Regions from separate parts of the Homo sapiens genome. Here regions 1, 2, 3, 4, 5 and 7 are each linked to region 6. The links come from fine-mapping of genetic effects on gene expression. A gene starts in region 6. Each other region holds a variant in brackets. All regions are shown on one strand. Distances are between the middles of the regions.

Evidence for each region.
Region 1: its variant is fine-mapped to the expression of KDM5A in whole blood (TOPMed, PIP above 0.99).
Region 2: its variant is fine-mapped to the expression of KDM5A in whole blood (INTERVAL, PIP 0.97).
Region 3: its variant is fine-mapped to the expression of KDM5A in whole blood (TOPMed, PIP above 0.99).
Region 4: its variant is fine-mapped to the expression of KDM5A in whole blood (INTERVAL, PIP 0.98).
Region 5: its variant is fine-mapped to the expression of KDM5A in whole blood (INTERVAL, PIP 0.98).
Region 7: its variant is fine-mapped to the expression of KDM5A in whole blood (TOPMed, PIP above 0.99).

What each region holds. Positions count from the first base shown.
Region 1 is chr12:258,766-262,834 of GRCh38, forward strand. It overlaps SLC6A13 (solute carrier family 6 member 13), which reads right to left. Exons shown (of 15, transcript NM_016615.5): 1 at 4,024-4,069; 2 at 1,086-1,292. The coding sequence starts at 1,287. Among named protein-coding and RNA genes, the nearest start is that of SLC6A13, 2.0 kb to the right of the region's middle. The variant CCT/C (reference allele first, on the strand shown) is at 1,908.
Region 2 is chr12:251,495-255,563 of GRCh38, forward strand. All of the region lies in intron 2 of SLC6A13 (solute carrier family 6 member 13), which reads right to left. It overlaps LOC102723544 (a long non-coding RNA gene), which reads right to left. Exons shown (of 3, transcript NR_120482.1): 3 at 1,948-2,253. Among named protein-coding and RNA genes, the nearest start is that of SLC6A13, 9.3 kb to the right of the region's middle. The variant C/T (reference allele first, on the strand shown) is at 2,014.
Region 3 is chr12:333,891-337,959 of GRCh38, forward strand. KDM5A (lysine demethylase 5A) reads right to left here. Exons shown (of 28, transcript NM_001042603.3): 11 at 351-532. Among named protein-coding and RNA genes, the nearest start is that of KDM5A, 53 kb to the right of the region's middle. The variant G/A (reference allele first, on the strand shown) is at 2,330.
Region 4 is chr12:302,376-306,444 of GRCh38, forward strand. The region is part of intron 24 of KDM5A (lysine demethylase 5A); the gene reads right to left. Among named protein-coding and RNA genes, the nearest start is that of SLC6A13, 42 kb to the left of the region's middle. The variant CT/C (reference allele first, on the strand shown) is at 2,071.
Region 5 is chr12:264,848-268,916 of GRCh38, forward strand. No RefSeq gene overlaps it. Among named protein-coding and RNA genes, the nearest start is that of SLC6A13, 4.0 kb to the left of the region's middle. The variant C/T (reference allele first, on the strand shown) is at 1,773.
Region 6 is chr12:387,346-391,414 of GRCh38, forward strand. KDM5A (lysine demethylase 5A) reads right to left here and starts at 1,975. Exons shown (of 28, transcript NM_001042603.3): 1 at 1,582-1,975. The coding sequence starts at 1,746. It overlaps LOC105369594 (a long non-coding RNA gene), which reads right to left. Exons shown (of 4, transcript XR_007063149.1): 4 at 2,688-3,596. It also overlaps a transcript of CCDC77 not described here. RefSeq lists an enhancer at 2,138-2,432.
Region 7 is chr12:281,892-285,960 of GRCh38, forward strand. KDM5A (lysine demethylase 5A) reads right to left here. Exons shown (of 28, transcript NM_001042603.3): 28 at 1-3,771. The coding sequence ends at 3,565. Among named protein-coding and RNA genes, the nearest start is that of SLC6A13, 21 kb to the left of the region's middle. The variant T/A (reference allele first, on the strand shown) is at 2,444.

The DNA of each region.
Region 1 (4,069 bases), 130 kb before region 6:
CTGAAAGAGAGGGGAATGAGAAGCCAATGATGACACAGTAAAGAGCTGGAGGTCATGCTCCCCCTACAACATGCACACATTTGTGCTGCGAAATTTTTAAAAAGAGAGCCTATACTAGAAGGGGCTGGGTAATGGATGGCTTAGGGAGCCTCACCGTGCCAGCAAAGTAGGAAAAAGACACAAGACCAAGGCTGGGGAACCTTAAGACCACAGAACAGTTTGGTTATCAACGTCATCATCAGCAGAGCTACTATTTATTACTTAAGACCACAGAACAGTTTGGTTATCAACGTCATCATCAGCAGAGCTACTATTTATTACTTAAGACCACAGAACAGTTTGGTTATCAACGTCATCATCAGCAGAGCTACTATTTATTACTTAAGACCACAGAACAGTTTGGTTATCAACATCATCATCAGCAGAGCTACTATTTATTACTTAAGACCACAGAACAGTTTGGTTATCAACGTCATCATCAGCAGAGCTACTACTTATTACTTAAGACCACAGAACAGTTTGGTTATCAACGTCATCATCAACAGAGCTACTACTTATTACTTAAGACCACAGAACAGTTTGGTTATCAACGTCATCATCAGCAGAGCTACTATTTATTACTTAAGACCACAGAACAGTTTGGTTATCAACGTCATCATCAGCAGAGCTACTATTTATTAAGTGCTTTACACACATTGTCTCTAATCCTTACAATGACCTTGAAAGGCAGGCATTATTATCTCAATTTGCAGGAGCGGCAATTGATGCTCTGAGAGCTTAAGTAACTTGTCCAAGATCACACAGAGTGTTAAGTAGCAGAGCCAGAATCCAAACTCTCATCCACCTGGTTCCAGCTTGTGCTCATATTTCTACGATGCCACGTTATAATAGAAAGAGCCCTGGGATAGTCACGTAACCTTTCTAGGTCTTAGTCTCTTACAGAGTGTCCTTAATGACCTCTAAGCGTCCTCCTACCTCCAGAATTCTATACATCTATGGGACTCCCCAGAGGGGCCGTAAGTGCAGGAGATGGAAGTATCCTCCTTCCAGGAGTGGGTGGGGTGGCACAAGGGCTCTCATCTCACCTCCCCCATTTTTGTAGCAGAGATAGGGAAACCTCCAGACGTTGCCTAAGCCAATGATCTCCCCAGCCACTGACAGCACAAACTCCATCTTGTTGTTCCAGTGCCCCCGCTCCAGGGTGCCATCTTCCTCCTTCTTTTCCATGACTGGATACACTGGTTTTGTCTCTCCATTACTGGTTGTGCCTGAGACCCTGCTATCCATCCCACCTGGAAAACAAGTGGGATGCTCTGTTACTGTTGGGAACCCCAGAAGGAAACCCCTCCTCCTGCTTTTACCAACAAATCCATAAGGGAATGAATGCACTGGAAGAGGTGAATTTCTATTCCCTTCCCTGTAGACCATGTCCTCCTTAGCAGTTCTCATTGGTAGAAGCTGGGTGACAGCTACTGAAAACATATATTCCTTTCCTGTTTCAGGAAGAAAGTGTTGGTACTGACAGACAGCCTTTGCTTCCACTATAAGGCCCTCTTGGGTTGAGGATTGCAGACATGGAGGAGTTCATGGGCCGCTGTGCTGTCTAAATTCTCCCTGCCACCCTACAGTCAGCCTCGTCGGGATTAGCATGTGCTTCAGTCTGTTTACTCTGTATGCTGGGACACGTTGAAAGGATGGGATTTTACATGTCCTCAAAGCCACCAATTTCCCTTGCAGGAATTTATGCTAAGGAAATAATTGTGATTGTGAGTGAAAGGTGTAGCATTAGGATATTTATTGTTCATAACAGCGAAAAATCGGAAAGTACATAAATTGTCAAAAATGGTAGATATGTTGATAAATTATGGCACATTCATATAATGGACTACTATATATAATCATTAAAA[CCT/C]GTGTTATAGAAACAAGTATATCGGCACAAAAGGGTGCTCACAATATATAGTAAAAAACAGTACATACAATATGATCATGCTTGACAAATATTTTATAAAGTATTTATAGGCATTGAAGGAGTAGGATAGCCATGAAAATGTTTTTCTTTCAGCAGTTGGGTTATAGGAACATTTCCTTATCTATATTTTCTACAATTACATCAAAAATGTGTTTTACTTTTGTAATATAAAAATAAAAGCCGGTTTTAAAAAAAAATCCTGTCAAAGGATTGGGAGAGGTTGAGTGGGACCAGGAATTGTGAGTAAGATGAGGTGGTCTAAGTACTCCTTCTATGTCTCTCTGAAATCAGCGTAAGGCAGAGATTTACTATGCGCTCTTTTTCTTTTTTGGTGATGACAAATTAGGAGTCTGTGACAGTAGAGAAGATGATATAAATAAAAAGCCACAGTTTTAACCATTCACTGTCAGAAATGGCCCATTCCAGACCACTGTTGGGATTGAGGATGACTGGACGTGGCCCACATTTAGTTAGCAACTACTATAGACTAGGCACTTCACATACATTCTTTTCATTTAATTCTCACAACAACCCTGAGATGTAAGCATTATTACCTCCACTTTATAAATAAGGAAGTTGCAGCTCAGAGAGGTTAAATAATGTGACTGCTGCTGCCATATAGCTACTAACTTGCACAGCCAGGACTTAAACCCACTCTGCCCCTGCTCTTTCAGTTCCATCCCTTTGATTACATTGGCTGCCTAGGTTCACTGGTGTGTCTACTAAAAGCATCTTCTAATGACTCTGCCTTGATTTTGCAGAGTGGCCTCTTTTCTGGAGAAGGAGGCAGATGGACTTTTTTCTAAGCCTCAAGCAAAGTTCATGTTAACAGAACTTTCTCAGCAGTAACCTCTTCTGGCCACAGACTCTACTTTGGCTCTGACCCAGAAAATTAGAAAGTCAGTGAACAGGCCGGGTGCAATGGCTCACGCCTGTAATCCCAGCACTTGGGAGGCCGAGGCGGGTGGATCTCCTGAGGTCAGGAGTTTGAGACCAGCCTGGCCAACATGGTGACACCCCGTCTCTACGAAAAGTACAAAAATTAGCTGGGCATGGTGGCAGGCACCTGTAATCCCAGCTACTCAGGAGGCTGAGGCAGGAGAATCGCTTGAAACCAGGAGGCAGAGGTTGCAGTGAGCCGAGATCGCGCCACTGCACTCCAGTCTGGGCAACAAAGCGAGACTCTGTCTCAAAAAAAAGAAAAAAAAAAAAAGTCAGGGAACAGCAGGCATCTATGTTTATCTGATAAATTAGGGAATGAGCTCCTTTCTACAAAGGAGAAACTCAAGTAACTGGTCCCAAGAGGGCTCCTCAGTCCTTTTGGGAAGGTTGTCTAAGGTACTGACTGTGCTGGCCTCCCCTCCCTTTACCAGCTGATGGATCTCTCCCAGTGATGGAAAGCCTTCCCTTCTCCACCCTCCCAGACCCTAGGAGAAACAGTAGCCTTCTCCTGGCTCCCTTAGCCTCATTAGAGCTGCTTCTCAGAGGTAGCATGTTGTGTCTGAAAGGTCATGAGCTGTAGAGTCAGATGAGGCCAGGTTCAAACATTAGTTTTTTCTCATACCAATGTCTGACTTCAGAGAAGTTAATGAATGACTCTGAGCCTTAGTTTGTTCATCTGTAAAAGTGGGGATGATAGATAGGATATACTTAGCTATAAGAATTAAATGAGGAAATATACATATGTATACACACTTAATAGAATAACAGGTACTCAAATTTTTGTTTTCTTTCAGTCCTGTCAGAGTTGATCATTGTTCTCTTTTCTCAGAGAAGAAAGACTTTGTTTTCTTGGAGTTAAATCCAGTTGTCTTTCCTCTCAATCTAGGGCTCTCTCTTTCCAAATCACAGTGTCACTTAAGTCAACAGCCACCCAAGTTTCAGAAAGTCAAGAAAATAGCACATAATCTTTGCATTTGCACACATACATGTCAGAAGCGTACTTTCTAGGCGAGGGTAAGAAAAAAGTCCTTTGGTTGTAAGTCCCATGGATCCCACCAACCTGCAGTCTGAGACGCAGAAATAGAAAAAAAAGAGAAGAAAACATTTCGAACCTTAGTGAAGCTGCTGCCAGAGGTCCAGTCAGGGGAGAAGAATTAT
Region 2 (4,069 bases), 140 kb before region 6:
TGTCAAACCTAAAACTATACATCTTCTAGAAGAAAATATGAGGCCTTGGGTTAGGCAAAGATCTCTTTATATGATATCAAAAGTATGGTTTATAAAATAAATAATTTATAAACCAGACATCATAAAAATTTAAAACGCCTTCTCTTCTAAAGACACTGTTAGAAACAGGAAAAACAGTCCAGGTGCAGTGGCTCACGCCTGTAATCCCAGCACTTTGGGAGGCCAAGGCTGGAGGATCGCTTGAGCCCAGGAGTTTGAGATCAGCCTAGGCAACATAGTGAGACCTCGTCTCTACCAAAAAAAAAAAAAGTTTTTAATTTTCCGGGCATGGTGGCACATGCCTATAGTCGCAGCTACTTTTGGGAGGCTGTGGTGGGAAGATCATTTGAGCTCAGAAGGTCAAGGATGCAGTGAGCCGTGACTGCACCATTGCACTGCACCATTGCACTTCGGCCTGGGTGACAGAGTGAGATCCCATCTCAAAAAAAAGAAAAGGAAAATTACAAAACACAGAATGAAAAAAATAGTATTTGTAAAATGCATTTCTGATAAAGGACTTGTGTGTTAGAATATATGAAGATACCTCGATAACAAAGGATAAACTACTGATACATGAAAACTATAAATGAAACCCTAAATAATTATGCTGTATCATAATTATCAACATACCATATGATTCCATTTATATAATATTCTAAGAAACGCAAACTAAGGTATGGTGGTATCACAATTTTCATAATTATCAACACACTGTATGATTCCATCTATATAATATTCTAAGAAAAACAAACTAGTTTAGTTTGCATTTAGCATAATTATTGATTGCACTGGGATGTGATGGCAGGAGTGAAGTTGGGAGGAAGGAATTAGAAAGAGACAGGAGTAACTGTTTTGGAAGTGATGGACATGTTTACTATCTCAATTGTGGCAGTGGTTTCATGCGTATATACATATGTCAAAATTTATCAAATTGTACACTTTAACTATGTGTGGTTTATTGTAAGTTAATGAGGAACCCAGTTCTCCAGTTCTTCACCTCCCACTTCTCAAGGTTGTATTCTACACATCCATAATTCAGGCACTAAGGGGGACTTGATCATGAGGACAAAGAAGGAAAGGTAGCAAACAATTCAGCCAAAGAAGTCCATAAATCAACCCAAGGTTTGCTGAGCAGGAAGGAAAACAGGAAAGATAGAACCCAGCAGCTGACAGGAACAGTCACTGTGGAGAGCCCAGTCCAGAAAGAAACAGCTATGGGCCCAGCCCAAGCCCCTTCCCATATTCATGCTTCCTGCTCTTTCTCTATAAACCAAGCCAATGTTTAACTCTGGGCCCCGTGGTCAGCTGCTCCCACCTCCTTCCTCTGCCTCGTTGAGCTCCTTGGCAGCCTGCCAAGAGGGACAAAGTCCACACCTGCAAGGAGGGGCTACAGGCCCTAGAAGTGTGAGAGGGGTCGGGGTGGGAGGGAGCCAAGGGGGCCAGGTACGGACTGAGGAGTGCTGAAGGGCATTCTGCCTCTTCCCCTCCGCAGGTACCACCATCAAAAGATGAAGTTAGTCCTGGGGATGGGGGGTGGAGTTCACAGTAACCTGCACCCCCATATCATCCATACTAGTCTCCTCAAAAATTCTAAAATGTGCTGGCATTTTCTCCGTGAGATAGGAGAGACCATATCCCCGTCCCAGAAAGCAATCACTCTCTTGGCCCCCCTTCTCAAAAGGAGCACGCTCTGTGGTGTCACTTGTAACGTTCCAGCCAATTTCTTACGGCATAAACTGACGATCTTCCACTTGAGCAACAGAAGAGCGAGGAGCTTCCATGAGGAGTTATGTGCTGTCCTCGGCATGAGCCTGACCAACAGTGGGCCCTGAGTCATTAACTACACTTGGTAACACACTGTCACTCACTGCTAAATTAACCATTACTTTTATATGAACACACGAACAGTGCTTCTTATTTCTCTTTATTCTCTGCTATCTATAAACAGCACAGGGCTAATGGTTTTCCTTGCTG[C/T]CAAGGGAATCCTCTTTGTGTGGGCATCCCAGTGCACCTTCTTTACAGGCTGGAGCTGAGGGATCTTTCCCCTCCAGGCCCTTCTGAGAGGTCCTGCTGTGTGCCTCCTGTCGTGGCCTCACATGGGGACTCCAGTCCCAAGTTAATTCTGGGTGTTGAGCAACTTGGTCTGCCAGCAGCCAGGGTCCAGGCAGTTGGAGAGGTCTCAGCTGAAGGCCCGTGTTCTGAAGCACCCAGGACCTAGGTATGGGAAGACTGAGGCTCTGAAGAGGAGTTGGAGGGGACAGGGAGGAAGTCCTCGCAAAAGATGGTCTCCAGCTGGTGTCCTGAGACTAGTGGAAAACTTAAAAGGTTCTTGGCACGGGTAACTTCTGCCCCGAGTGAAATTTCAGCAACCTGGACTTAGAAATTAAGTGAAAATGTTGGCAGACGGTTTTTTCATCTGGGCTGAGATAGGCAGGAAGGTGATTTAAATTCCCCGCTGGCTATGGACAGTCCTATGACCAGAACCCTCTCCCGCTACCTTCTTCCCACATCACGCCTCCTGCGTTATCCAGCATCTCCTCGTCCCATGACTGGAACTTTAACTGGGCAGGCCCTAGTAGAAAATCGTATTTGCTTTCCCTCCTGGCAGCTGAGGGTGGAGGGCTGGAGGAATAGTTCAAATGTCAAGCTTCTTCAGCCGCCTCGCCAGCTCAGGGCCCCACCCCCGAGGAGTCTGGCCACTGGCACACTGTCACTGCTACGCAGGACTCACATGGCCCCCTTCCGCCCAGAAGGGAAATACACAAGGAAGGGGTGGATTTTACCTACTCCCACATTTTGCCCCAATAACCCACATTTACTATTTCCAATTCCTTTCTCCCATCTCCCCCATTATCTTAAATCCATTTCAATCAGTCATTGTCCCCAGCCCTCCACTGTAACCGCTCTTATCATCAATGACTTCCCAGCTGCTAAAACCAACAATCAATTTCCTTTCCTCATCTTCTTAACCTATCTGCAGCCTTTGCTGCAGTTAATTTCTCCCTCCTCCCTGATAGAATTTCTTCACTCGACTTTCCAAAACACTTCATTCTCTTGGTTTTCATCCTGCTTTACCAGTTTCTCATTTTCTGTCTCCTCTGCTGGTTTCCCATCTTCTCCCAGACCCACTAAAGGTCCTTACTTTCTTTTCTTATACCATCAAAATGCTAATGATCCCCAAATACACACCTCCAGCCAGATCTCTCTCACAAACCCCAAACTCACATTCTATTGCCCAGTTGCCATTTCCACATGGACATCTGATAGATACCTCAACTCAACTTTCCCAAAATTCACCTCCTTACTTTCCCTTCAAAACCTGCTCCTCTGGGGCTAGGCACAGTGGCTTATGCCTGTAATCCCAGCACTTTGGGAGGCCGAGGCAGGCAGATCACTTGAGACCAGGAGTTTGAGACCAGCCTGGCCAACATGGCGAAACCCCCTCTCTATTAAAAACAACAACAACAACAAAACAAAACACAAAACCTTGCTCCCTTCATGGCCTTCCACGTCTCAGTGAATGGCAGCTCCTTCCTTCCAGTCACTCAGGTGAAAACTCTCGGATTGCTTAGATGGGTGCTAGCAGTGGAGGGGATGAGAAGTGGTCGGGTCCTGCACATCTCATCGCGGGGGCTCTAGTCCCAGGCATTCGGGTGCTGAGCTACTCGCTCTGCCAGCAACCAGGGTCCAGGGAGCTGGAGAGGTCCTGAAGCTCCCAGGACCTGGGTGTTTGGGTAGAGTCAAGAGCTATGAGAGGTGGAGGAAATTAAGGATGACTCCAAGATTTTTGCCTTATAACCAGTCAGCTTCTGCCTTCACTCCCCTATACTCAGTTCTCAACATACCAGCTAGAGAGATTATTTTAAAATGTAAGATGACTGTCCGGGCGCAGTGGCTCATGCCTGTAATCCCAGCACTTTGGGAGGCCAAGGTGGGCAGATCACCTGAAGTCAGGAGTTCGAGACCAGCCTGGCCAACACGGCAAAACCTCGTCTCAACTAAAAATACAGAAATTGGCCGCGCGTGTTGG
Region 3 (4,069 bases), 53 kb before region 6:
AACTCTGTAAGGCGGATCAGTGAAAACACCTTCAAACGGGAAAGACACTATATGAAAAGTAAGCACTGTCCCAAAGGATGCTGACACATGACCTTGATTCAGAGGTCCATGTGAATAATGGACATTTCAATTATCCCCACAATGATCAAAATAAGTCAGTGCTCTCTAGGATACTTCTAAATAGCTTCACTGAGTTCAATTTTACTACCCAAAGAAATAGGCCAAGGCTAGAAATTATTGAAACCTTAAATATACTTCTGTCTATAAACCTTAAAGATCAAAAACCTAGCATCATTAATCCACTAGACTTTAGTAGAGTTCATGCATGCTGTATTTTAGACTGTACATACCAGTGCAAGTAGTTGATGGAATAACTCCAGTGATCCTCAATGTGCCAGCAAAAAGAAGAGAAGCACATTCCCACATAGAGCCACGGCACTTTCATACCAGAGATGTCCACATTAATATGTGCAAGAACAGACTGTTCCAGGACAGGCATGTTATTCAAATTCCAACCAGAAAGTGCATATTCCTATAAGAGAAGAAAAAACTGTAAATGAAAGATCAGAAATGAAAAGTGCTCAATAGAAATGCCAAGGGAGTCTTCCCAGAAAATTTTTTTATAATATTTATAATAGTCTAGTGCATACAATCTGTGCTCTTTGCTATCCACTACATGTAACTCATATAACTAAACATTTAATCCTACCTTCTGTCTATGTTCTATTTAGATTTCCCTTTATTTCAGATACCTCTGGTTTACTCCAAAGCACATGAGCAATTCTTGTTATTCTCCAGCCAATCAGGAAAACAGTATGAGACCCATCTTAATACAACATCACTATTTCTATTTTATAGCCAGTAGCATAATTTCCTAAAATGTTTACTACTATATTGATAGAATGGTGCTAGATACTGTAAAGACAAAATACAATATACATAATCTTGAACTTGTGACAACAATGAAGACTGACATGATGCAGAAAGTCACCGCCATCACTCCTAACCATTATACAAACACACCTAGAAATACCGGATAAATTATAACAATAAGACTGACAGGATGCAGAAAGTCACCACCATCACTCCTAACCATTATACAAACACACCTAGAAATACCGGATAAATTATAACAATAAGACTGACAGGATGCAGAAAGTCACCACCATCACTCCTAACCATTATACAAACACACCTAGAAATACTGGATAAATTATAACAATAACCAAAAAAACTTCATAGGTGAACCCAAAAGAAAAGGGAATTCCCAGTTTCTGGAAACAGAGTGGAAGCAAGCCATAATGAAAAAGGAAGCTGTTGCAAGAGTTTTCACAGGGGCTTCTACTTGGATATTGGCACCGGAGAAGGACTTTCAAACATCCATCTCTGCAGCCATATGAGGCTATGACTTAAAGTGCTTATCATCCTTATGGAGAACAGTTCTCAAAATGGGATCCAGAGGATCCACTAAGTCAAACTATTTTCACAATAATTCTAAGACATTATTTGTCTTTTTCACTTACATTTTTGCAGGAGTACAGTGTGAGTTTTCCAGGGGAAAGATGGTATGTGCTATCATAACAGATTGAATGCAGAAGCAGATATGAGAATCTGCTATTAAAAAGTTGATAACTGAATGTGGATGTCAGGAACTGGCAGGGGTGGGGGTAGGGTCATTATTGTGCTTACTGTTTAGAAGTTTCTATAATACAAGTTAAAAATAAAAAACCCTCAAGGTAAGAAGTTAAAGAGCCAATGACAAAGCTAAAGAGAATTTGTGAACTAGAAGACATGTTTGAGGAGATTATCTATAAGGCAGCACAGAAATATATAAACTATCAAACTGTAATTAAGAGTCACAGAGAGGCGGGCTGGGCACGGTGGCTCACATCTGTAATCCCAGCACTTTGGGAGGGTGAGGTGGGTAGATGACCTGAGGTCAGGAGTTTGAGACCAGCCTGGCCAACATAGTGAAACCCTGTCTCTACTAAAAATACAAAAAATTAGCTGGGCATGGTGGCGGGCACCTGTAATCCCAGCTACTGGGGAGGCTGAGGCAGGAGAATCACTTGAACCCGGGAGGCAGAGATTGCAGTGAGCCGAGATCGCGGCATTGCACTCCAGTCTGGGCAACAAGAGCGATACTTCATCTCAAAAAAAAAAAAAAAAAAAAAAAAATAGAGAGAAGCTGGGCATGGTGGCTCATGCCTGTAATCTCAGCACTTTGGGAGGTCATGGCAGGCAGATGACTTCAGCCCAGGAATTTGAGACCAGCCTGGTCAACATGGCGGGACCCCATCTCTACAAAAAATACAAAAATTAGTCAGGC[G/A]TGGTGGCGTGCGCCTGTAGTTCCAGCTACTAGGGATGCTGAGGTGGGAGGATCCCGTGAGCCCGGGAGATTGAAGCTGTGAGCCGAGATCATGCCACTGCACTCCAGCCTGAAAGACAGAGTGAGACCCTGTCTCACTAAAAAAAAAAAAAAAAAAAGTCACAGAGGATGGAATAACAAAGTCCAACACAGGTTTAACTAAGAATTCCAATAAGAAATGACAGATCTATTCCTAAAGTTCAACAGGCTAACAAAAAAGGAAATAAAAGAATCTCAACAGGTTATTACTCAATATGTTTTGTGATTGGTTGGTCAGCTGGCTGGCTGAAAAATAGTGAATTTCATTGAAGAGACAAGGTCTACAAACAAAAAGAACACTGGGAGGCCGAAGCTGGTGGATTACTTGAGGTCAGGAGTTCGAAACCAGACTGGCCAACACCGTGAAATCCCATCACTAGTAAAAATACAAAAATCAGCCAAGCGTGGTGGTGCATGCCTGTGGCCCCAGATACTCAGGAGGCTGAGGCAGTGCTTGAACCCAGGAGGTGGAGGTTGCAGTGAGTCAAGATTGCATCACTGCACTCCAGCCTGGGCAACAGAGCGAGACTCCATCTCAAAAAAAAAAAAAAAGTTACAATACAAGGTAACATATATAAAATTCCAAATACATATAGAAGAGAAAATACAGTTCTTCAGAGGACAATAAAACAGTGATCATCATGGGTTTGGATTGTGATATGGTTTGGATTTGTGTCTCTACCCAAATCTCATGTTGAATTGGAATCCCCAATGTTGGAGGAGGGACCTGGTGGAAGGTGACCGGATCATGTGGGCAGATTTCCCCCTTGCTGTTCTCACAATAGTGAGTTCTCACGAGATCTGGTTGTTTAAAAGTGTGGGGCAACTCCCGCTTCTCTCTCTTCCTCCTGCTCTGGCCATGTAAGACGTGCCTGCTTAGCCTTCACCTTCTGCCATAATTGAAAGTTTCCCGAAGCCTCCTCAGCCATGCTACCTGTTCAGCCTGTGGAACCTGTACAGCCTCTCTTCTTTATAAATTACCCAGCCTCGAGTATTTATTTATAGCAGTACAAGAATGGACTAATAAAGATTGTTAGGAAAACTTCACAGCAAGGAAGAAATTGTGTTGAGCTTTGAAGGATAGATAAGATTTGAATAAACATTCTAGGAGGAAGAGCTACAAGAATGTAAAAGGTAAATTACAGAGAGAATATACTAGTCTAGCTGGTGAAAAGGCAGAATGGAAGAGTCATACGCAAAAACACAGGAAATAACATTAGAAAAAAAGATGAGATCTTTAATCTTAAGTTTTGGACTGAGAATCTGAGATTTATCCTATATTCAAAAGGGAAACATAAGTTTTGAAAAACGAAACAATATGATAAACATAGAATCAAATATTTCTAAACTTTTTTTTTTTTTTTTGAGACAGAGTCTCACTGTTGCCAAGGCTGGAATGTAGTGGCACAATCTCAGCTCACTGCAACCTCCACCTCCTGGGTTCAAGCGATTCTCCTGCCTCAGCCTCCCGAGTAGCTGGGATTACAGGCACCTGCCACCATGCCCGGCTAATTTTTGTGTTCTCAGTAGAGATGGGGTTTCACCATGTTGGCCAGGCTGGTCTCAAACTGCTGACCTCAAGTGATCTGCCCGCCCTGACCTCCCAAAGTGCTGAGATTACAAGCATGAGCCACCGTGCCCAGCCTATTTCTAAACTTTTAA
Region 4 (4,069 bases), 85 kb before region 6:
ACAACCATCTGATCTTTGACAAACCTGACAAAAAGAAATGGGGAAAGGACTCCCTATTTAATAAATGGTGTTGGGAAAACTGGCTTAGCCATATGCAGAAAGCTGAAACTGGATCCCTTCCTTACACCTCACACAAAAATTAACTCAAGATGGATTAAAGACTTAAAGGTAAGACCTAAAACCACAAAAACCCTAGAAGAAAACCTAGGCAACACCATTCAGGACATGGGCATGGGCAAAGACTTCATGACTACAACAACAAAAGCAATGGCAAAAAAGGCAAAATAGACAAATGGGATCTAATTAAACTAAAGAGCTTCTGCACAGCAAAAGAAACTATCAGCAGAGTGAACAGGCAACCTACGGAATGGGAGAAAATTTTTGCCATCTATCCATCTGACAAAGGGCTAATATCCAGAATCTACAAAGAACTTAAACAAATTTACAAGAAAAAAACCACCCCATCAAAAAGTAGGCGAAGAATATGAACAGACACTTCTCAAAAGAAGACATTTATGCAGCCAACAAACATATGAAAAAATGCTCATCATCACTGTCGCTAGAGAATTGCAAATCAAAACCACAATGAGATACCATCTCACACCAGCTAAAATGGCAATCATTAAAAAGTCAGGAAACAACAGATGCTACAGAGGATGTGGAGAAACACGAATGCTTTTACACTGTTGGTGGGAGTGTCAATTAGTTCAACCATTGTGGAAGACTCTGGCAATTCCTCAAGAATCTAGAACTAGAATTACCATTTGACCCAGCAATCCCATTACTGGGTATATACCCAAAGGATTATAAATCATTCTACTATAGACACATGCACACATATGTTTACTGCAGTGCTGTTCACAACAGCAAAGACTTGGAACCAGCCCAAATGCCCACCAATGATAGAATAGATGAAGAAAATGCAGCACATATATACCATGGAATACTACGTAGCCATAAAAAAAGATGAGTTCGTGTCCTTTGCAGAGACATGGATGAAGCTGGAAACCATCATTCTCAGCAAACTAACACAAGAACAGGAAACCAAACACTGCATGTTCTCACTCATAAGTGGGAGTTGAACAACGAGAACATATGGACACAGGGAGGGGAACATCACACAGCAGGGCCTGTCCAGGGGTGCAGGCCTAGGGGAGGCATAGCATTAGGAGAAATACCTAATGTGGTTGATGGGTGCAGCAAACCACCATGGCACGTGTATACCTATGTAGCAAACCTGTACGTTCTGCACATGTACCCCAGAACTTAAAGTATAATACAAAAAAAATTATGGTTAAGTAATCTACCTTCTATAGTCTACAACCTATAATAACTCCTATACCAACAAGTTAAGGAGGGGAAGATAAATTTAGATGTGACAGCCTAAGGACACAAACCATTTAATCCTCTCTACAGGTTTTCAAACCTAGAATCTTACCAATTGCTCTTAATACAAGTATATGTCTGACTGACAATATATAGATTACAGTAAGTCTTCATGTAATGTCATTGGTAGGTTCTTAGAAACTGCCTTTAAGCAAAAGGAAGTATAGTAGCAGGTCTTTGAATAAAGTTGTTTTCATTTCATTATAACAGTGATGAGGGGGAAAAATAAGTTCAGCTTGCAGATCAGCTTGGTACTGCCCATTAATCTCATTGTTACACTTAAAGTCCTTGCAATGTTAAGTGAGCTCTGATTAGGTCTATGATTCTCCTTGAAATTAGTTTCCACAAGCTCACCTACATAGACACAATCCCAAAAGATGCAGGACAGACTTTGCTTCATTAAATATGTACCTCGTAAGTAATGATTTTCTGGATGGTAACTAAGATAAAATGACTGATTTTATTTTACTAAATAATTACCTACCCCTCCTCCTAAACCAAGAGGGGGCTCTTCCTCAAGCAAGAATACTAAGTTCAAAGTATTTTAAGTTATGAATTTATGGTCACAACAGAGGACATCACACAAAGGAAAAAACCACCAGGTCAAATGCAAATAAACCGGCAAATAAAATTTTCATTATACAATTATCGCTTGCTCTGTGGGAAAATGCTCAAGAGTATAGG[CT/C]TTTTTTTTTTTTTTTTTTTCATTCAAAGATATCAACATCAAAGTAAATTGGCAGGGGTATATAGCTCAGTGGTAGAGCATCTGACTGCAAAGTAAATTTGAACTTGAATTACCATAAGTCTTGCCACCATTCTTCTCAGCTGTCAAATACATTGCTAACACTAGAAAATCCATAATCTTATTTTTCTACCCTGCCAATACCCACTACCAAAGAGACAGTAAGCTAAGATTCTCATATAAATTCCTCCACAAAAAGACTACTCCATCCAACCATATGAAACTGCAGTTGTGATCCCTAGTCCTGAAAATCATCAATACTTGTGATGTTTTCATAGGTTACCAGTCTGCTTTCAAGCAAAGCCCATCATGTTAAGCAATTCTAGAAGAGTGGCTGATAGCTAATGTGCTAGAAAGCAACCACCAAAAATATCAAAGGCCTCTAACTAGGGTAAACGGGTGATTCCAGTATTCAAGGAAAAAGCTAATTATACTTGGCATGGGTTGCATTTCTTTTCAGCTGCTCTTAGTCACCCTATATACAACTTCGTAAACAAAGATAGTCATTAACTTCTGGATAACAACGTGCTTAAGAATGTACCGCTGTGTGTGGTATAAGCTAGTGTACCTTTCAGCAGACTGCCAATGAATTCTTCATAATGGGATTTAGCAGTACACTAAGATGATATTCAAGAACTGTACGCAACTGTAATGCCTCTTTTCTTAATAATGGCCCTCAATCAGCCCTTGAAAATCAGTGCAACAAAACTTGGCCATCTGTTCACAAAACTTTCAAAACTGAAAAATAATAATCTACCATATAATAAGATATTTTAATATAAAAAAAGATTATTTGAACAGTCTAATTCAAGTTTCAACTGTTTTCAAGTCTTTAAGTCACATAACTGAAAATTCCCATTTCTATCTTGAGAAAAAATATTTCCCAGCAGAGGAATCTACGAGCGTCTATGATGGATGGTTTTAATTTTATATCCTAGGAGTTTTAATGCTGATGAGATTAATGAGCAGTACCATGCTGATCTGCAAGCTGAAAAGACAAATAAAAGATAGTGAAGGGGTAGGAACAGAATCTCCCCTTGTTCTCTGGAAGCAGCCTTTTGTATCAGAGTAGGAATTCCCAGGTTACAAGAATAGATTCTAAACAAAGCAACTAAGAATCATATAAAACAAGTCAATGGATTGACTGTAATCTGGCAGGGTCTCTGCCTAATCACATTGTTATTACTAGGTTAAAAAGCAAAGGGCTTGCACCTGACAAAAAGGGCTAACGAAAAGCCAACTGGATCCAACACAAAACAAACTTGTCAAAACCTTCTCTTCACCACCAGTAACGTGTCATTACCAAAATAATCACATTGATGGTAAATAATTTGTTGTATCTGCAACTGGAACTCAGCAAATTCTAACCTGGGCCCAAGTATTATATTACCCATCTCCGAATGTGACATTCTATCTAGCACCATCCAGACGAGAAAGCAGAGCAAAAGACTCTAGCAATGGAAGTGTTTTTTTTTTTTTTTTTTTTTTGAGACAAGGTCTTGTGCTGCCCAGGCTGGAGGGCAGTGGTGCAATCATGGCTCACTGCAGCCTCGACCTCCTAGGCTCAAAGCAATCCTCCCACTTCAGCCTCCCAAGTAGCTGGGACTACAGGTGTGTGCTACCACACCCAACTAATTTTTGTATTTTTTGTAGAGATGGGGGTCTCAATATGTTGCACAGGCTGGTCTCAAACTCCTGGGCTCAAGTGATCCTTCCACCTCAGTCTCCCCTAAATTGTTAGGTTTACAGGCATGAGCCACCACACCAAGCCTAGAATGGAATTCTTAAAACTTAACTGTATACAGACTTTCACAACTCAAAGAAAAAAATCTGAAAAACTGAAATTGGCCAAGAAAGCTTTACATATTGTTTTTCTAGTTCCTCTAAGCCATAAGGGATTATAAGATGAGTAAAACAAATACAGATTTTTTAATTCTATTT
Region 5 (4,069 bases), 120 kb before region 6:
GACTAGCCTTGCATCTACCTCACGTTGCCATCATCCTTTGGTCTGCTGGGTGCAAAGTCAAGAAACCTGAAAACAGGTAACAACAGAATCCGTATTCAACAGTTCTTACTCAAGAGGCTGCATAAGTTTTAAGACTCACTAGAGATTGTCAGTGAGGATAATTGAAGGCTGTGCTTCCAACAACAGGATTGTATAAAACAAAGTGAACCACGCAAAAAGCAGGCCTAGGAGTCCTGGTTTGTACCAAGTTGATCCCAGGTATGTTTAAATGACAGTACGCCATGATACGCTCTCCCAAAAATTGTTTGACTCTACTAGGAGTGGAATAAGAACAAATAAAATTTTTTTCTAGTTTGACATTTCACAGAAACAAATTTTAAAAGCAGCACGATTTGTTTCAAGAAAGAACATTTCTGAGCAACATCAAGGTGGCAAAGGAAGTGGTGGGTTCTCCTCTGGAGACCTTTAAATTAAGAGATATAGTTCTGTTTAACCACAGGAGTCAGAAACCTGTTGACTTTTTGGATCCCTTTTCAAACATCACACTGAAAGAAAAGAAAAGAGCAAGTAGAACAGACTAAACAACAAATTATGGCTTTTGCTATAACTGAAATAATTTGAACAACAAAATGAATAATGATAGTATTGGATTGTAGCCCAAAGAACAAAGTTCACTAATAAGTTCATGCTGATACAAATAACCAACAAGTTAATAAGTGGGATAAAAGGACTAGTCTTCCTTACAGTTGAATTCCAATTAATACATATAGAAGGATGCCGAGCATGGTGGCATGCACCTGTAATCTCAGTTACTCAGGGAGGCTGAGGTGGGAGGATTACTTAAGCTCAGGAGTTTGAGGCAACACAGCAAGACCCCATCTCAAAGAAAAAGAAGTCTTAATAAATGTAGAAGGAAAGAGAAAAACAGAAAATCACCATTAGACAAACACCACTATAATAATTGTTGCAGACAAGATCTACCAATGAATGCTAAAACTAGTGGGTGAAAGTTCCAGGAGGAACAGAATTTTTACAATTCCAAAGTGTCTCCCCCAAGATATTTATTAACTACAAAGGGAAAAATAGTGATTTTGAAGTAGAGAAGCCAGGCAGAAACCACCTTAACCAAATGACCAAGGTCAACATCACCAGTAATAAGATAGTAATAAGACATCAATATCTCTCTATATCATGAACCATGGATATGATGTACTAAGAGTGACACAACATTTCTGTGGTATTCTTGCCAAACATGCGGTTCAATCACAAGAAACATAAGACGAACCCAAAGTGAGGGGCATTTGACAAAATTACCGATCACTACTCTTCAAAAGTGTCATGAAAGACAAGACAGACAAGACAACAAAGACTGAGCAAGTGTTTTAGGCTGCAGGAGACTAAGGGAAAATCACAACTAAATGCAATGTGGGGTCCTGAATGGGATCCTAGATAGGATCCTGGAATAGAAAAGGACATGAATGTAAAAACTGGTGAAAGTTGCATAAGGTCTTTAGTTTAATAGTTCTCTACCAATGTTAATTTCCTCGTTCTAACAATTGTACTATGGTTGTGAAAGATGCTAACGTTAGGGGAAGCTGAGTGAAAGATGGAAACTCTCTGTACTATTTTTGCAATTTTTCTGTAAGTCTAAAATTAGCTTAAAATAAAGTTTTTTTGGTTTTTTTTTTTTTGTTGTTGTTGTTGAAGATTTTTGTTTACACTCTATTACAGCCCAAGTACTTGACCCTGCTGTGAAAAGCTCTGGGATGTTA[C/T]GTGCGGAAACCAGAGGTGTCACTGAAAACTGTGAAGCGTTTTCTGTTTGATCCCAGATGGGATAATTCACCTAAATTCTATCAACTCCAATTTGTTTTCTTGTTTCTTTGTTTGTTTGTTTGTTTGTTTTGAGATGAGGGTCTCATTCTATTGCCCAAGCTGGAGTGCAGTGGCACAATCATAGGTCACTGCAGCCTCAACCTCCCAGGTTCAAAGGATCCGCCCAACTCAGTCTCCCCAGTAGCTGGGACTACAGGTTTGCACCATCATGCCCAGCTAATTATTTTTTAATCTTTTATAGAGATAGGGTTTTGCTATATTGCCCAGGCTGGTCTTAAACTCCTAGCCTCAAGCAATCCTGCCTCAGACTCCCAAAGCACTGGGATTATAGGCGTAAGCCACCATGCCAGACCCAAGATCTGAAAGAAACAAGACTTATGACAAAGAATATTAATGACGTCAACCATTACCATTAGTAACGTTTGTCGTGCATTTCAAATGTGCCAGACGTGGTGCTAAGTGCTACACAGGCACCATCGCATTTATCCTCAGAACAAACCTACGACACAAGAATTACTGACATGACCATTTAAAGACAGGAAAACAAAGGCTTAGAGATAATTAAATTACTTGCTAGGCCACATAACTAGTAAATGGTAGACCCAGGTTTTGAACTCAGGTTTGTAGAATTCTAAAGTCCATTATTTACTTATAGCTACCATGCTATCTATACTTTAAGTCTAGAGGGGGAGGAAAAAAGACAAGAAAAACACTAAAAAGCACAGCTCTAGTACTGTTTATTTTGGCTATTGCTGGCCCGTGGGATTAAACATAACTTTCTTAGGAAAGAGGTGAATAACGAAAATGACAAGAAAAATGTTGCTTTCACTGAAAATCTCATCAGACCTGAATAATACTTTAAAAATCTAATCAGAAGGCTCTCTTCCTATCCCAATGTGTTCCACAATTCTCTCCTACTACTCTGCCCTATTAAGGAAAATCATACCTTTTGTCTTTAACTCTAGAAAAGTAATTGCAGTTATTTCCCAATTTTATCCTGTTTCTTCCAATCCCTGTTTCCCTGATTTCTTGTCTGACTCTCAGAGTACATACAGTTTGCAACACTTATGTAACTAGTCTCAGTGGGAAGCTCTTGGCTGATGAACAGTTAGTGAGCAGGGGTTCTGAGTGAATGGAGACACCCTGACACTATGGAGCTGCGGTGAGGGATTAGGGCAGAGTGACATTTAAAAAGAGCAACTTCAATCGATGGACAGTCTTTTATCCTAAACATTTTTAACCACCACTGCAGGACGTTATTTGTGATGAGAAAAATATATTGATGCACTGATCACACAGCTGACTGATGAGGAATGCAAAGTGTGGCCGGAATCTCATCTCTCATGTCTCAGCCCAGAGAGAGAGGGGACCCAGAAGGGAAACATGATTGTTTTCCCATGACTGGGAAACATGGCAGCTCTCATCTGTCCTGTTTCCCCAAACAAGAAAAAACAGACACAGCCTGCTCAAACTGTGCCGTCAATGCCCGTGAGCCAAAGACCGCGAGGAACACACAAGTTGGGTTCATTACTCGTGGCAACAAGGGAGAGTGCACACAATGTAAACTGTGAGGTGTCTCAGTCAGAGGGCGTCGCTGAGGACTTGTTATCGGATGAATTTCTGTTAGGTGATTTTCAGGAGGCTTCAGGAAGCAGGGCTTTGCTTTGGATTGGATGCTGTGAGGAAGGAGGAGTAATTTTATAATTAGGTTTCCTAATGGATTTTGTCTAGAAAGCAGGAGAACGAAGTGAAGTGAAAAGCTGTGATTGGCAAGGAAGGAGCAGTCACTTGTGTTAGCCGGCAAAAGATGTTCGATCGCTTGTGTGGTTTGGACAATGTTTACGTTGTTGTCTTTATTCAGACATCATCACAGGGTGATCTTATTTGTGTCTGGATCCACCATGATCACAGAGTGGCCTTGCCTGACATTGACATGTGAGAACAAACACCAGGGCAGCTCCTAGCAATACAAAGCCTAACTGATAGTGTCTGTCCAATTTCCAGCTGTCAGGGGCTTCTTTTCTCTTTCTCAGCCATAACAGCCACATAAACTCGGAGGAGTGAACTGACGTCACAGAAAGTGGTGACTGTAGCGGGAGGAAGGCCCCTCTACCTGTTCTCAAGGCCTTGGCCACGGGTTTTCACCCCCTCTTCCCTATATTCTCCTCCTTCACACTAAGCCCAATCCCAACTTTACCCGCTCTTGTTATATCTTATCCGTATTCCCTCCATTAAA
Region 6 (4,069 bases):
GCATTTTTTTAAGTAAAAAAACTTTTTTTAATCAAAGTAACCGTGAATAGAATTTCTAATTAATAAATTCAAGAGTAGATAAAAATATGACTTAGGAAAACCTTCAATGCTTAAGATTTGTTAATATTAGGTAATTATGATAGAAAAAAGGGTTAAATGGAAGTTTTTGGAGGATGGCAATGCGTATCATCATAGCAATTATTTGTTAATCCTCTGCTTGAAATGAGTAGTCTATAACCTTAAACAAAGTCATTCAACATAGTGAGAGCATTACGTCTGTTTCAGAATCAGAAAAACTGATCTAGGTTCAAAATACACTTTGCCACTTGCCCAAGATCACACATTTGGTGTTTTAACTTATCCAGATTAGCCTCATCTGTAAAAGGCGGACTTTATTTACCTGTCAGGGCTTCAAAGATTAAAGCAAACAATCTATAGGTGTTAAATTAGTTCCTCCTCGCTGTCATTTAAGTTTTTAATACGCTGCGGTGCCTATCTCTGTGGTAGTCAGTGGTGACGGCAGATGCTTTTTAAAAAGCAACACTGGTTAACAGTGCTTAATATTTTATCATTACTAATACTAGACAAAACATAAAGCAAAATGCCTTTAACAAGCAACGACTAAAGCAATGGTTCGAAAACCTCAACTTACATGAGAATCATCTGAGACTAGTTGCTAGAAAAGCAGATTCCAGAACTTCCACAACAAGACTAGAGATCTGCATTTAAACAAGCATCCAGTTGACCCTGGTGCAAGTGGTCCAGCAACATCATTTAAAAAGCACTGGTCTAATGAGTAAAGAAAAACACCTTTGACCTTGAGTAATCACTCAACCTCTTGGGGCATTAATCCCCTCCACACAAGGGATAGTATCTGTTTTCCTTACCTCAAAGGTGAGATTATAATTAACCTTATAGGCAAACCTAGTTATCTGCAATAACTGTGATTCTAAAATCGTTGATCTTGAGTTCCCTACGTCAAGAGATTTCAACATTTCCTTCCACCTCCACTATAAACCAATTTTTCCTAAACCTCTAAATTTTAGAATTATTGCTGCTCCTTCTCTTTCCCCGCTAAGACTTTTTCACTGCGGCAATAATTAGTCTGGAGTTCTTGTCTAGTAATACCATCCGGTGAGACTAGAGCTCAGATAACCTTTTCAGAAACCCTAGCCCTGAGATGAGGCCTGCAAATATTTGATCCAACCAGGTCTTGAATAAAGAGATAGCCGACTATCAAACCATAATGAGGATACGTGAGGGAAGAATACGTCACGTCATAATACTGTACTTTAAACACCATATCGGCTAACGAAAGGCTTTAGGCCCACGGCTGAGAGAAAAGTATCAGTTCCCAAGTTCTAGGCGGAAGAGGCCCAAGAGACACCACTTTCTCGCTTTCAGACGTGTCTACATAAGACCACAAAAGAAACCGAGGCAAAAACATCCAGAAACAGGCTCCAGTTGTCTCAAAAGAGAGTACATATGAAACGAGACAAGGATCAGAAAAGTAAAGCTAAACCCAGTGTACGGACTCCCCCATTCTTCCTTCTCCCCCTCTCTCTTCACAGACTGAGGTACCTTGGGCGGCCGAATTTTGCAGATGCCGGTTTTCTCCGCCAAAGGCCGGATGCGGCCGATAAAGCTGAGCGGATCTGTGAACTCCTCCCAACTCGGCTCAAAGACGGGGCACTCTGGCGGTGGCACGAACTCCGCCGCGTAGCCCCCCGGCCCCACGCCCGCCATTGCAACGGCCGGGGGGGGGGGGGGGTCCCCGTGGGGAACCGGTGGAGAAAAGCTGGCTGAAGCCCACTAAGCCCGTTCAAGTCCCCTGACAGAGGCCGAAGCGCATCTTCGCGGACAAGAACCGTTCAACACAGAAACCCCAGAATCGCTTCCTCCTCCCGTTTGTTATTGTTTCTTGCAAGGCTTTTCCACTGAGGTTCAGGACTTTTCCGGAAGTTACCGTGCTGTCAAATCCCTCCGCCCCCTGCAGGAAACGGAATCCTTCCGCAGCTGCACGACGCCTGTGTGTCTGGCCTTTCCTTCTTCTTCTCTTCCCCGGCAGCACAGTGTGGCTGTTTGTCTCCTTGCCCGCCAAAGTTCTGCCCAGTCCAACGACTCCACGCAGCTCGCCCTTGGTAAGGGGTCGGGGAGGGGCACAAGCTCTTCTTTACTAGAGGTACGGATTGAGGGAAGCCGACGGGGCGAGGCGGGGCGAGGCGCAACGAGGCGGGGCGAGGCGCGACGCGACGTGACGCTTTCTTCCGGCGCGGAGGAATGTGTAATGCCCCAGAGGGCAGAGGTTGTGCTTCCGGTGAGGAGGGTCCCTTTCCCTTTTGTGTATCAGTGCACTCGAAAACACGCCGGGCTTAATCTTAAGCACCGCGCCTCACCGCCCGTGCTTCGTAATTTGTTTTAACCTACCCTGCTGCGTTTATAGCAAGTAGCCTTTCCAGCATTTCTCTTTTTTTAGCCCTTTGAATGCAGATATTTTACAGTAATCTCACTCTGCCACTTTATACCCGCCTCTTCTCCATCAAAACAAGTGCAGGTCTAACCCATCCCCTAAATCCTGCCAGCTGGCTTTAGCCACCATCCATGAATTGCTTTTCCTTTTACACAGGACGCAGCAGCTCTCCTGAATTACCAGCCAGTATCGTCTAGCTACCTGCAGGACATCTCACTTTGATAACTCAAAGTACTTTAATTGTTCACTGTTTCTTCAGTGTTCCTGGTTTCCATTAATGACTTCATCTATTCAGTTGCCTGAGCAAAAAAAAAAAAAAAAAAAAAAAATCAAGAAATAATCCTAATTCTTTCTGCTCTCACTTCCCATGTATAATCGTGTGTCTCTCCATCCCCGTTACCAGTATCCTAATTTAAATACTCTTACTGACAACAGCTGATTTCTCCTCTCAAATCCCTCTCCATCCACACGTTGGATTGCTTTGTCTAAAATCCAGAATTCATCTTGTCACTTTTCATCTCCAAACTCAACAACTCCAAACATCTTTTTTAATTGCTGATTTGCTGCTTTGCTCTCCAGCTTCATCTCTCCTGCTTCTCCATATGATCTACAGAAGTTTTTGTGGTGACTTTAGTACACCATGATTTTTCTCACCTCTGAGTAACAAATCAGGGGACTTTGAATAACGCAGATTGCCCTCCATAATGTGAGTAGGCCTTATCCAATCAACTGAAGGCCTGAATAGAACAAAAGACTGACCTTCCATGAGCAAGAAGGAATTTTGCCAGTAGATGGCTCTCAGACTTGAACTGTAGCATCACCTTTTCCCTGGCCTCCAGCCTGCCAACCCACCCTGCAGATTTTGGACTTGGAAGCTCTATAATCAAGTGAGTCAAGTCCTTAAAATAAATATCTTTATAAACACACACACACACACACACACACATCTTATTGGTTCTGTTTCTCTGGAGAACCGTGAATACATCTAGGGTTGGAGGGTTCAAGATGGCCTCACTTACGTGTCTGGCAGTTGGTGCTGGCTATTGGCTGGGAAGTCTTAGTTCTCCACATGGCTTCTCATCTTCTGGTAGATGGAGCTTTTCCACTGCATGGTGGTCTTAGCATTCTAAGAAGATGAGAGTGGAAGCAAAGACCTAAAGCCTAGACTCCAAAATGTACAAGATCACTCCATCATATTCTGTTGGTCAAAGCAAGTCATAAGACCATCCCAGATTCAAGAAGTGGGAAAATTCCAATTTTTTATGAGAAGAGTGACAATGTCACATTACAAAGGGGTGTAGACACAGGACGCTGTGATTCATAATAATTCCATACAATTATTATAATGATTTATGTCCAGGTGCAGTGGCTCACGCCTGTAATCCCAGCACTTTTTGAGGCCAAGGCGGGCAGATCACCTGAGGTCAGGAGTTTGAGACCAGCCTGGCCAACATGGTGAAATCCTGTCTCTATTAAAAATGTACAACAATTAGCCCAGGCGTGGTGGCAGGCGCCTGTAATCCCAGCTATCCAGGAGGCTGAGGCAGGAGAATTGCTTGAACCCAGGAGGTGGAAGTTGTAGTAAGCCGAGATCGTGCC
Region 7 (4,069 bases), 110 kb before region 6:
AGAAATTCAAAAAGACATTTTGTGGGCACCTGCTAGCACAGAAGCGCAGAAGCAAAGCCCAGGCAGAACCATGCTAACCTTACAGCTCAGCCTGCACAGAAGCGCAGAAGCAAAGCCCAGGCAGAACCATGCTAACCTTACAGCTCAGCCTGCACAGAAGCGCAGAAGCAAAGCCCAGGCAGAACCATGCTAACCTTACAGCTCAGCCTGCACAGAAGCACAGAAGCAAAGCCCAGGCAGAACCATGCTAACCTTACAGCTTAGCCTCTGTCCTTTAAAAAAAGAGAGAGACAGACAGACACATGGGGTCTCGCTGTTGACCAGGCGGGACTCAAACTCACAGGTTGAAGCAATCTTCCCACTTCAGCCTCCTGACCACAGGTGCACTCTACTGCACCTGGCTGCCATGTTTTTTATTATTAAAGTACATTATGGGTAATCACAGGTTTAATGTTTGCCGTTTCCATTATTCAAGGTATGACATGCAATAATTTATAATTTTACTGAGGCACAAATTTGAATCATGCAGGCAAAGCTGGTGTGCAGCAGCTTAGTGAGGAAGTCATGCATCTACACATCAACATGGCTTTGCTGCAGTACCTATCAGGAAGCAAAATAAACATCTGTGGAAGAAAAATCTCCTGTCTTCTCCCCCAGCTAGAAAGCTAACTACTGGTGCTGTATTTGTACTTTTAAACTTGGGGATCTGCATAGTTCTAATGACTTAGCTTTTAAGAATACCACAGGCCTACCATATTTCCATTTTTCTTTCTATAACCTTTGCCAGAGTTAAAATACTAATGATGAAGAATTGCAACTTCAGTTGCAGTTTAGAGGAGATAAGGGTAGAAAGACATTTTAAATCATGTCTTAATACAAAATATTACAATACAGAAGGGAGCAAGTAAGTAATTTTCTCTAAGTGAAAATAATGCTTTGTATTAGAACACCAACATTTCTTTAAATAGATGAATCTTGTTTCATTAATTCCAAAACCGCAGATTTGTGTATTTTTTGTTTTGCCATTAATTTCTCCCTTCTGTTCTTCTCAGCCTTGGTCTAAACCTGTGGTCAAGTCATACCAAATCCTCCATGACTGTCAAGTAAATACAGAAAATCCCACAGTATCAACGAAAAGACATATTTAAGTTTCAAAACGTCAGAAGGTGACAGGAAGCTATTCATACTTTCTCAGCATCCTCATGACTCTCCACTGATAGTGGAATAGTTAATGGATGATTAGGAAGGAAAAATAAAAATTTTAAATGTATTCCAGGCATCTGTCACTTAAAATTACATTCAATTTTTAACCCACAAATATCTGAAGACTGTTACAAAGAAGATCAACAGGCAAAAAATATTGTGCTTTCTTGTATAACATCAACCAGAGGAAATTCTTAATTGATAATCGTTAGCTTGGCAAAACGAAAACTTATGAAATCAGTTAATTAGTTACCTTGCAATATCCATTGAAATCTTCGATCATACACAAACTTACTTCAGATGAGACCTCAAGACATATGCACAGCAACACTAACAAACCTCTGAACAAGTCAAAACACTCAAAATGTTATACAGTATTAAGAATGAATAAAAAGTAGGTAGTATGAACTTCAGAGAAAACATTTACAGAAATTGGATTTTATAAGAAAACATCTTTTTTTTTGTAAGATTCCTTTTGAGTTAAATCTCATACCCACTCAAACTGTAACTGGACAGTACATTTCACTTCTAGTTACTAGAAGACAGTTCTTTAAAAGAGACTGGGGCAAAAAGGGAAGAGGAAACTATAAGCTGTTGCTAGGTCCACCCCAATCCCCCCTTTAAAAGGAAAACTGATGAATTTAAGTCAAACCACAGATTTTTTTAAACCAAAATAAAGACACCAGACAGTGATGACAAAACACTATTTTTAGTCATTTTTTTTTTTGTCCTTTAAAAAAAAATTAGTCCCCTTCTAATAAGAGTTTACATACAGCTTACCTAATACCTTAAGAAGAACAGAGAACACAACAGGAGGGAAGAGGACACAGCACCATAGTTTCAAACATTCACACACAAAAGAAAAAAGAGCCAGCACAGACTAGAGTGAGACCAAGTTTCCCAACAGACAGGGACAAGTCCCAACACACAAAGGACATATAATTATCTATATGAACAAAAGCAAAATGGAAGATCTGGTCAGGCTGGGATGGAGGAGGGAGTGCTAACTCCTTGTACTACAAAGAAGGAATGGGATTTTTTTTTTTAAAGCAAAAAAGAAAAAGCAAGCCCCCAAATGGATTTTTGATGTTGAAACTCTGTCATATGCTGCTGGTAACAGTAAATATATATATTTATATATTCATATATGTATATTAAAAAAGGAAAAATAATCTATGTATAGAACAGTCAGTAGTCAGAGACATTTAGAAAAAAGTAAAAACAAGTCCTTTTTTTTTTT[T/A]AAAAATGGATTTACTAAAACAACTTCATCACCCAGAGGTACTACAACCCCACATCCTCTGATGAAGCCATGGTGTTATTCAACAGCATCTGCTGTGGGCCGTAGTTAGAAATCACCAGTGTTGGAAACAGCAGACATTGGGGTCAGGGCTGCAAGGCAAAAAGCTGTTATTTGCTGGTCTTGCTCATGGCCATGCCTGAAGCCTGGTGTCTGGAATACTTGTGAATGAAGTTTTCCCCGAAAAGCATGCATCACTGTGGCTCAGTAAGATAGTACGACTGGTCATCATCGTCATCTTCTTCTCTTTTTTTTTTTGGCAGAAGCCTGGATCCATGTACCTGCTCTTCCCTAAAATGTAGACCCAAGACAGCAAGACTTTTCAAAGCCAAAAAACGGCTCCTTGCCTTGTAGTAGGTTCTTCTCCTCAGAATCCAATCTAGTCAGATTTCTGATCTAGATGATATCCTCATCTTACAAAGATAAGGTGACCTGCCCCAGCTTGTGAGAGGTTCTCCTATTTGGGATGTTCTTCTAGCACAAACAAGCACAAATCGCTGAGGTCAATAGACTGTGATACCATTCCTTGACGTCTAACAGAAATAACTTTGGCCCTGTTACTCCTAGTTGTATCTTTAGGGCATTAAGTACCAGGTAACAGTGGAAGGAAAGTGGTACTCCAATCCCTCTCCAACTATCCCAATGAAGGAGATCCAAGCAATTAGCACCTTCAGTTGGTGCTGCTCCTAAGTTGTAAGCCTCTAACTACTATCAGCTGGACAAAAGCCACATCCTATATGCCCTGTTAGCACACCAATGTATTAATACTAACCAGCCACCCTAGAGCTCAATTAAGCATCTGGCCTTAATGCAGTAAACCACACTCAAAGGAGACATGAAATATTGGCTGTTGTACCAAAGAAGACACCCTCTGCATAGATATGTTGATAGAGAATGTAACCCACAGAGTCCATGCAAAGAGGAAGCCAGCACTAAGGGGACTTTCTCTGAAGGCCATTCATCTTTGGAAGCAACATTCCAAGTGGATATAAACCACTCTACTTGATGACTAAGGTCTCAATGTGGTCCATGTCCCCCCATGTCCCAAACTAACCAAGCATCTGCTAACTGGTCTCTTTAAGATCCTCCATTGGTAGTTTGTAGCTCATTATGAAGGAAGGAGGTGGTGCTGGACCTGGGCTAACTGGCCCCTGCTTCTTTGCACAGTTTATACAGATGTAATCTTCATTTTCAGCCATTTCTGGAGATACACCCACACAAACTTGATGAAACCACTCATCACAGCCACCATCACATTGTACCCAGTCTACCTGTAGGAAACAAGATTGGGGAATGTTTAGGTTACATAAACATTAAGCCTAGAATAAAAGCAAACCAAAGAGCTTTCTTGGCTTAAACAATAGCAAACAACTGGGATGTCTAGATAGGCAATGACTTCTTATGGGGTTATTTTTTAAAGAAAGAAGCTGAGAAGTTAATACCCCAAAATTATATTTCACCATAGTGTGTCCACAAAATTAGGCCTCTTAGGTACTCCATTACCTCATGAATACCTGGGGCTCCTTGTGAGGCAGAAACATGTTTGAGAAAAATTTGACAAAAAGGGAA